2 linked regions of the Homo sapiens genome follow. The protein of the gene in region 2 interacts with the protein of the main gene of each other region in a pairwise test. Each region holds a gene or a part of one and is shown on either strand. Other genes may lie near its edges. The genes, in order: ANXA7 and DYNC1I1.

Region 1 (3,820 bases), on a different chromosome or scaffold from region 2:
TACCTGAAATATCTGTTTTGAGGACTCAAACTGCTTCGTGGTGACACTGTGAGTTCCTCAGGACTTTCCCTTTCTCTTTAAAGGAAGTGCTACAACTATCAGGTATTCTGGCACAGTTATCAAGACAGGCCTACAGATGAAGGCCAAATAATCCCCAAACAGCCCTGTTTGATCACAGAACTACCATTCATAGGAAATTGTATGTAAAAACACAGGACTGTTTCTGGGGGCTTATCCAATAAAGAAAACAAACAACAAAAAACAAACCCCAAAGGATTAGATCAGCTACTGCCTAAGCAGATTCCACGTGGACTATATTATCAACATTTAATGGGAACAACTATTCAAAGCTCCCACTCATTTAAAAAGAAAATAAAGCAAAGCACAAAAATATCTTACAGATGGTCTTCAAACCACTTTCTACATATCCGGAAAACTCACGGCTCACACTGCTTAACAAGTCTCGATTAGCCATCTGCAAACAAAATTAAAGGGTTAAATATTTTTGTATCTTACAGCAGAAGCCAAATCTTCAAAAGAAAAGCTCATACCCTAGAATAAGCCTCCATGGTAGCTCTCAGCTGAGGAAAGCTTCTTGTGGCAAGGATCATGTTAAAGCAAGATTCATCGGTCCCTAGTCTCCCCTCACCAGCTTGATAGAGACGCTGAGCATCTTCCTGAGCCATTTGGTGGTTTATACTCTGGTTCTCATCACGATTTCCCTGCAAAAGAGAAAGGCAGGAATTGGAAGAAATAAATAATAGTTCTACTAAATTTTTTTTTTCCAATCTAGTTCACTTTTGGATTTAAAGAGACTATTTCTTTTTTTTTTGAGATAGGGTCTTGCTCTGTCACTCAGGCTGGAGTGCAGTATCAACCTCCTAGGCTCAAGTGATCCTTCCACCTCAGCCTCCCAGATAGCTGGGACTACAGGCACAAACGACCATGCCTGGTTAATTTTTTTATTTTTTGTAGAGACAGCATGTCTCACTATGTTGCCCAGGTGCTGGTCTCTAACTCCTGGGCTTAAGTGATCCTCCTGCCTTAGCCTCCTAAAGTGCTGGGATTATAGATGTAAGCCACTGGGCCTGGCCTAAAGAGATAATTTATTAAAGATTAATCCATAATGTCTGTCATGCATATGCTTCATTTCTATGCATGGAAATATAACTAGTAATTTATTATACTGTCAACTGGATTTTATAATATAAGATCACGGTTTAATGAGGTTATGTTAAAAATGAGGGCTTTTGGGAGCTAAATTAAACCCAAAATGTTTAAACAAAAATATCTCTACTAGGAGATATTAACTACCACTCAAATGAAGAAACAGCTCTCTTAGCTGGAATTTAAGATCAATATGCACTGTACTGAGTTCTACTTTTTATTCATTCATGCGACTAAGAGACATTAAGCACTTTCTTTGTGTCAGGCACTGTGTTAAGCGGTAGGGACACAGGAGAGACAGGGTCTCTGCCCTCAAGAAATTTAACTCTAGGGCAGGAGGGAGGGAGGATATAATATGGAGGCTTCATAAACTTTCTTTTCTTCATCTGAGTATAATATTTTTTTTTAAGAGACACGATTTCACTATGTTGCCCAGGCTGGGGTGCAATGGCTATTTGCAGACATGATCATAGCCTCAAACTCCTGGGTTCAAGTGATCCTCCTACCTCAGCCTCCAGAGTAGCTGGGACTATAAGCTCACACCACCACACTCAGCCATCGAATTATAATCTTAATATGTAAGTATTTACCATAAATACACGCATAAAAATGACACATAAGCTTTACAGAAGCAGCTACAAATAACTCATGTTCTGTTAGACTGTGCCTATTTGTATACCACACTCTTCCCTGGAATAGGAAGAAAGGAAGGAGGAAGGAAGAGTTTAAGCTTAATGAGCAGTTGGTTTCTCTCAAAAACAGAAAGACAAACCCAAACAAGAAAAGGCTGCCTTTTAGAGTCTCAGGGACCATCTTTGGAATAAGATGGAAAAATCCTCCTTGAAGCTGAAGAACTGTCTTCTGAGCAACTGGCACAAGGAATACGTAGAGGCACATTCTACATGGGCGACTGAATATAACACAGGAAAAGGTACTCACAAAAAATTTCCCAGATTATTGCCTTTGGATTCACACACACTTTCTCAGGAAGTTACTCCTCTACTCATGCCCTGGAAAAGGTAGGGCTGGGCCTTGAACTCTGCATAAAGAGAGACTCAGCACCTCATGTAAAATCTTAATAGCCATTTTTTAGCATTGTCTGTTTTCCTTCTTGTTTCTTTTAAATCCTAACCTACTGCCCTCCTGTTACTCTGATTTAGGTAAATTCAATTTCCTTCAACCCATTTACTTTGCTTTCTCATTTCCATATCCACTATCCTTTCCACAGCTACCTCCCTTTTTTTTTTTTTAGATGGAGTTTTGCTCTTGTTACCCAGGCTGGAGTGCAATGGCACAATCTCAGCTCACTGCAACCTCTGCCTCCCGGGTTCAAGCGATTCTGCTGCCTCAGCCTCCCAGGTAGCTGGGATTACAGGTGCCACCACTCCTGGCTAATTTTTTGTATTTAGTAGAGATGGAGTTTCACCATGTTGGTCAGGCTGGTCTCAAACTCCTGACCTCAGGTGATCCACCCGCCTCAGCCTCCCAAAGTACTGGGATTACAGACATGAACCACCACACCCAGCCCCTCCCTTGGCTCTTAAGAGCCCCTCCTCTCCTTTAGATCCCTCCAGATGGTCCAATCTTGTGCACTAGCACAATAGGCAATAACTCTTGATATTGAATCAGCATGCTAGTCATTTACATAATCTCTTTCAAATACACCTTCATCATCTAAGTGTGCTTCTTTTCTTTTTTTCTTTTCTTTTTTTTAAGGACAGGATCTCACTCTATTGCCCAGGCTGGAATGCAGTGGTGCGATCACAGTTCACTGCAGCCTCAATCTCCTGGGCTCAAGTGATCCTCCCACTGAACTTCCTGAATAGCTGGCACTACAGGCACATACCACCATGTTCGGCTAATTTTTAAAAATATTTTTTATAGAGATGGTTTCTTGCTATGGTACCCAAGCTGGCTTCAAACTCCTGGCCTCAAGCAATCCTCCTGCCTTGGCCTCCAAAAGTGCTGGAATTACAGGTGTGAGGCACAATGTCTGGCCCTAAGTGTGTTTCTAATGCCATTCCAAATACCCTATTTGGAGTATTTTCTGTCAATTCTCCAGCACACCTGGGGAATCAAAATAAAGAAGGTGCTAATCACAGTTATTACTGGGAACCCTAAAACATTTTTCTGCATTTCTGGGTCTCCTCACATAGTCCTCACTTCCTGTAGCACCTCTATGGCAGTCCTGCACATCTTCACTTGATGGTGGGGCATAATGGGCAGGATAGTGATAAGCTCAAATGTACAGTTTCATCCCCATCCCAGCCACAGAGCCTCGAATTGGTTTCTGATTCCATACAACCTTAGAGGTTAAATCTCTAATTCCTTACAAAAGCCAGATTTACAGGAATAAATCTCAATAGTAACTACAAAGAAATCTGTACACTGGTTTCTGTGTTGTCCCTCTTAAAGATGGCAATATTGCAAGGTGGCTAAATATTAAAAGGAATAAAGAATGCTCACTGGCAAAAGGCTTTTAAAGTATGTTCCCTCTATCAACGCACAAGCATTCATACTATACTCACCTGGCACATGGACACAAGTAAACGTTCAAAATGTCCTGATGTATCTGACCTAATGTCCTTTTCAAGGTCTCGTCCAAATTCTGACTGATAACATCTGACAATTTCTCGGATTTCCTGATTTGTTC
Region 2 (3,820 bases):
CCTCCTAGATGCTCTTAGATGTTGTGCTTTTTACTATCTTGTAAAGACAAAAAAATTGACTTAAATTATTTAAACAGGGAAGATTTCAATGAGAAAACTAGAACTTCTAAAGCAGAGTTTCATAATTTCGGCATCATTGACATTTTGGGTCAGATAATTCTTTGTTGTGGAAGCTGTCTTGTGCTTTGTGGCATGTTCAGCAGCAGTCCCAACCTCTACCCACTAGATGCCAGCCCTTTTCCCCAATTGAGATAATAAAAAATGTCTCCAGACATTGTCAAATGTCCCCTGGAGAAGACAATTGCTCCTGGCTAAGAACAACTGATCTAAAAACTTGCTGGGGTCAGGTGCAATGGCTCACACCTGTAATCCCAACACTTAGGAGGCTGAGGCAGAAGGACTGCTGGAAGCCACAAGTTCAAGACCAGCCTGGGCAACACAGCAAGACTCCATCCCTATGAAAAAAAAAATTTTTTAACCAGCTGGTGTGGTGGGACATGCCTGTAGTCCCAGTTACTTGGAAGGATGAGTTGGGAGAACTGCTTGAGCCCAGGAGTTGGAGTTGCAGTGAGTTATGATCATGCCACTGCTCTCCAGCCTAAGCAACAGAGTAAGACCCTGTTTGTAAATAAATAAATAAATAAATAAATAAAACTAAAAAGAAAAGAAAGCACTGGAATTAGCCCATCTTGTACTGAAAATCATTAAATAGAAGAAAGATAAAAGACAGCTATTCCCAGTCACCACTACTTGAGAGCAGAAAATGGGACCAGCCTCTGTGCAGCTCCTTCTGGCCCTACTCACCTCTAATTTGAGTCCCATACACAAAAGGCAATGGGCCTGACTGCCAGTAGCTGTGCCACACTGACCCATAACACACAGCACCTGTGCTAGATAAATGTGCAATCTTCAAACTGGCATTTGCATACCCCTGGCCTCCACAGTGGCTTTCTAAAGAGCCTGCAGGCAAGGGAAAAGTTAATGGCATTAATTTCCAGATCCGCAGCTTTTGCCTGTATGTTTTCCTAAAACTATCTACCGGAGAATGTGCCTGTGGTTGTAGAATTATTCGGGGCCCCTTTTTCCATCTCCATTTTCACAAAATGCCTTCTGCCATATAAGGTTAAAGACAAATATAAACTAAACAAACAAACAAAACCCCAAGAAATCCCAAATTTTACTGTGGTGCTTAACTGCAAGATATAAAAACATCCCTTTGTGAAAAGAGCTTCTTCACATACATTTTAAATTGAAGTTGGTATTTAGATTTTAATTGGATTCAAAGAATGATGTCACGGTTTTATTTTTAACTGTCAAAGTTTACAACATTCTGAAAATCACATTAATTGTGATTCTATAAATTTATGATGAAAAGCATTAGATGTAACCTTAAATGTGTGGAGGTGATGGAGCTGCAGAATTTTTAAAAAATTCTTGAGGGATTATAAAAGAGAAAAAAAAATGTTGGAAGAGCACTGAGTTAAAGCATAATGAAGCACACTGGAACGGTTACCAGGCAGGTCTGTTGATCAAGTACAATCGTCCTCTATAGTGCTTGAGATTCATTATTTTTATTATGAATACCCTCAACTCTGACCGAAATTTCTGCTTTGTGTGTTTGCCACATTGATGGCATTAGCTGTTCTGAACCCCCAAAATGAAACAGTGGGTTGTTCTATGCGATCATAGCAAGAATATAGGTAAGCGGAAAACTGTTAGCGCTTAAATAATAATTTGGAAGCAAGAACAGCTGCTAAAGAGGATTTCAAGACCAGTATGAACTGAAAACTAAAGAGCACGTAAGTCATCTGGTAAGTAGTGCCCCTCCCAGGATTTAGAAGCAAGTCAGTGTTCCGGATCATGACACAGCTGCTGTATCAGGGAAGCCTCAGAGGACAGAACAGCCTTAAAGTAAATTCATCTTTGCAGTGAATAAAGTTTTGATTTACAGTTACCCCTGCAAGATAGTTTTCAGGCTGTGTTAGGTGGGGGCTGCTGTGCATTTGGTACTCGGCAAGACACCTGGCGATGGGGGAAGCAAAAGTGTGGAGTTTCAACTCACCTTAAGTTAAAGCAGGGCTTGCTTTTCTTCTGCCACTCTGGGAGACATACAACTTGTTGTTGTTCCTTTGATAATATTTTAGGCTTTTCCTATCAGTGTGTGAACATATTTCTTGAGGGACTCTTAGTCCTGCCACAATAAAAAGCTACACTAAACAATACTTTTTTTGGTGTCCCACACAGGCAGAGAAACTATGAGCTATGGTAGGAAGAGAAGAAACAGACTTTGGAATCAGGCCCACCTGCATTTCAAATCCAGCCCTTCCACTATCTGGCTCCATATGGCCTTGACCAAGTGACTTAATCCCTCCAAGCATCTCCTTGTTTGTCAAAGAAAGAGAAAAATGTCCACCTTACAGGGATGTTGGGATGATTCAATGAACTAACACATCTATAAAGCACTGATTATGCACAGGGGAGATTCTCAATGAATGACAAGCCAAGCTAGGACTGCCTGCCACGCCTGGAGGCCTGACTCAGTTGCAGGCCTGACTCAGTGTCAGTTGATGTTTGCTATACCTGCCACCTGGACTCCTGGTGAAATGCCACAAAAATGTCCTGATAGCCAAGAACATTTTATTTTTGGCTGCCACTGGTAGGATAGCTTGGCTTTGTCTTCGATACATTTCAGCAGAGTGACCTCTGCTCCTCTCCCCTTTTTTAAACAGCATATGTAAACCAGTGATTCTTCCTGTATTTTTAGTTAGCAATATCCCCATTTTTTCCCTAGAAAACTACATTTATGCACAAATGCATGAAAATTTGCCTCAATTTTAGTGGGTTCAATGACCATCTGAAAACCATTCGTATGCCTCCCTTTTACAGTATCTATGGGTTTTTGTTTAAGAAGGTTCCTCCAACAAAGAATCAAGGATGTTTTATGAATATGTGAGCTCATGAGGATTAGCACCTAGGCAGAGGTATCTATGTTACGATGGAAACTTCACTCTGAGATTCTGGGGCCAGGCCTCACTCAGAGAGGAATCAAGGAACACAAGTCCAGGATATTGATGAAAAGTCTCTGTCAAGAGGAATAATTTTTTTCTTTTTTAAGACAGGGCCTTGCTCTGTCGCCCAGGCTGGACTGCAGTGGTGCAATCTCGTCTCACTGCAACCTCTGCCTCCTGGGCTCAAGTGATTGTCCTGTCTCAGCCTCCCGAGTAGCCTGGGATTACAGGCACGAGCCTCCAGCCTGGTCTCTAACTCCTGGCCTCAAGTGATTGGTCTGCCTTGGCTTCCCAAAGTGCTGAGATTACAGGTGTAAGCTACTGTGCCCAGTCAAGAGGAATAACTTTTACATGGACCTCGTCAAGGGTTTATACATTGCAAAGAAGAAAAATGAGAGTTGAATTAATTTGAGTTAACTCTCAAAACAAAAAAGTCAACTCTAGAAGTTCCTAGTTCCAGCACAGTTCCCAGGAGAATATATGTTCTCACATGCTCTAGGGGATGCAGAAGCCACAAAGATTTCTAGTAAAAGAGATCCCTGATTAAGGTAGCAACTATTTACACAGCATTTGAGATCCACAAAGTATAACAGCTACTTTCATTAAGGAGACAAAAACAATGCCATAATTTATTTTAAGGGGCCATGGGTCTACTTTGAGTGTGCATATATTATTCACAGTTACCAATCAACTGGCAAAAAGTGCGGCTATACTTGTGGCTTTAAGAAAATAACAATGGATCACACTGAAATTGGAGAGCAAACCTGAAAGATACAGACATACACTCGCTTTTTTGTCTCTCACACAGCACA

What was found.
Region 1: the proteins of DYNC1I1 (region 2) and ANXA7 interact in a two-hybrid assay, tested with the Homo sapiens proteins (one large-scale study listed by BioGRID and IntAct).

What each region holds. Positions count from the first base shown.
Region 1 is NC_000010.11:73,379,480-73,383,299, forward strand, and holds part of ANXA7 (annexin A7), read right to left. Parts: coding exon 3,696-3,820; intron 723-3,695; coding exon 552-722; intron 476-551; coding exon 400-475; intron 1-399. UniProt on the Homo sapiens protein: Calcium/phospholipid-binding protein which promotes membrane fusion and is involved in exocytosis.
Region 2 is NC_000007.14:95,775,485-95,779,304, reverse strand, and holds part of DYNC1I1 (cytoplasmic dynein 1 intermediate chain 1), read right to left. Parts: intron 1-3,820. UniProt on the Homo sapiens protein: Acts as one of several non-catalytic accessory components of the cytoplasmic dynein 1 complex that are thought to be involved in linking dynein to cargos and to adapter proteins that regulate dynein function.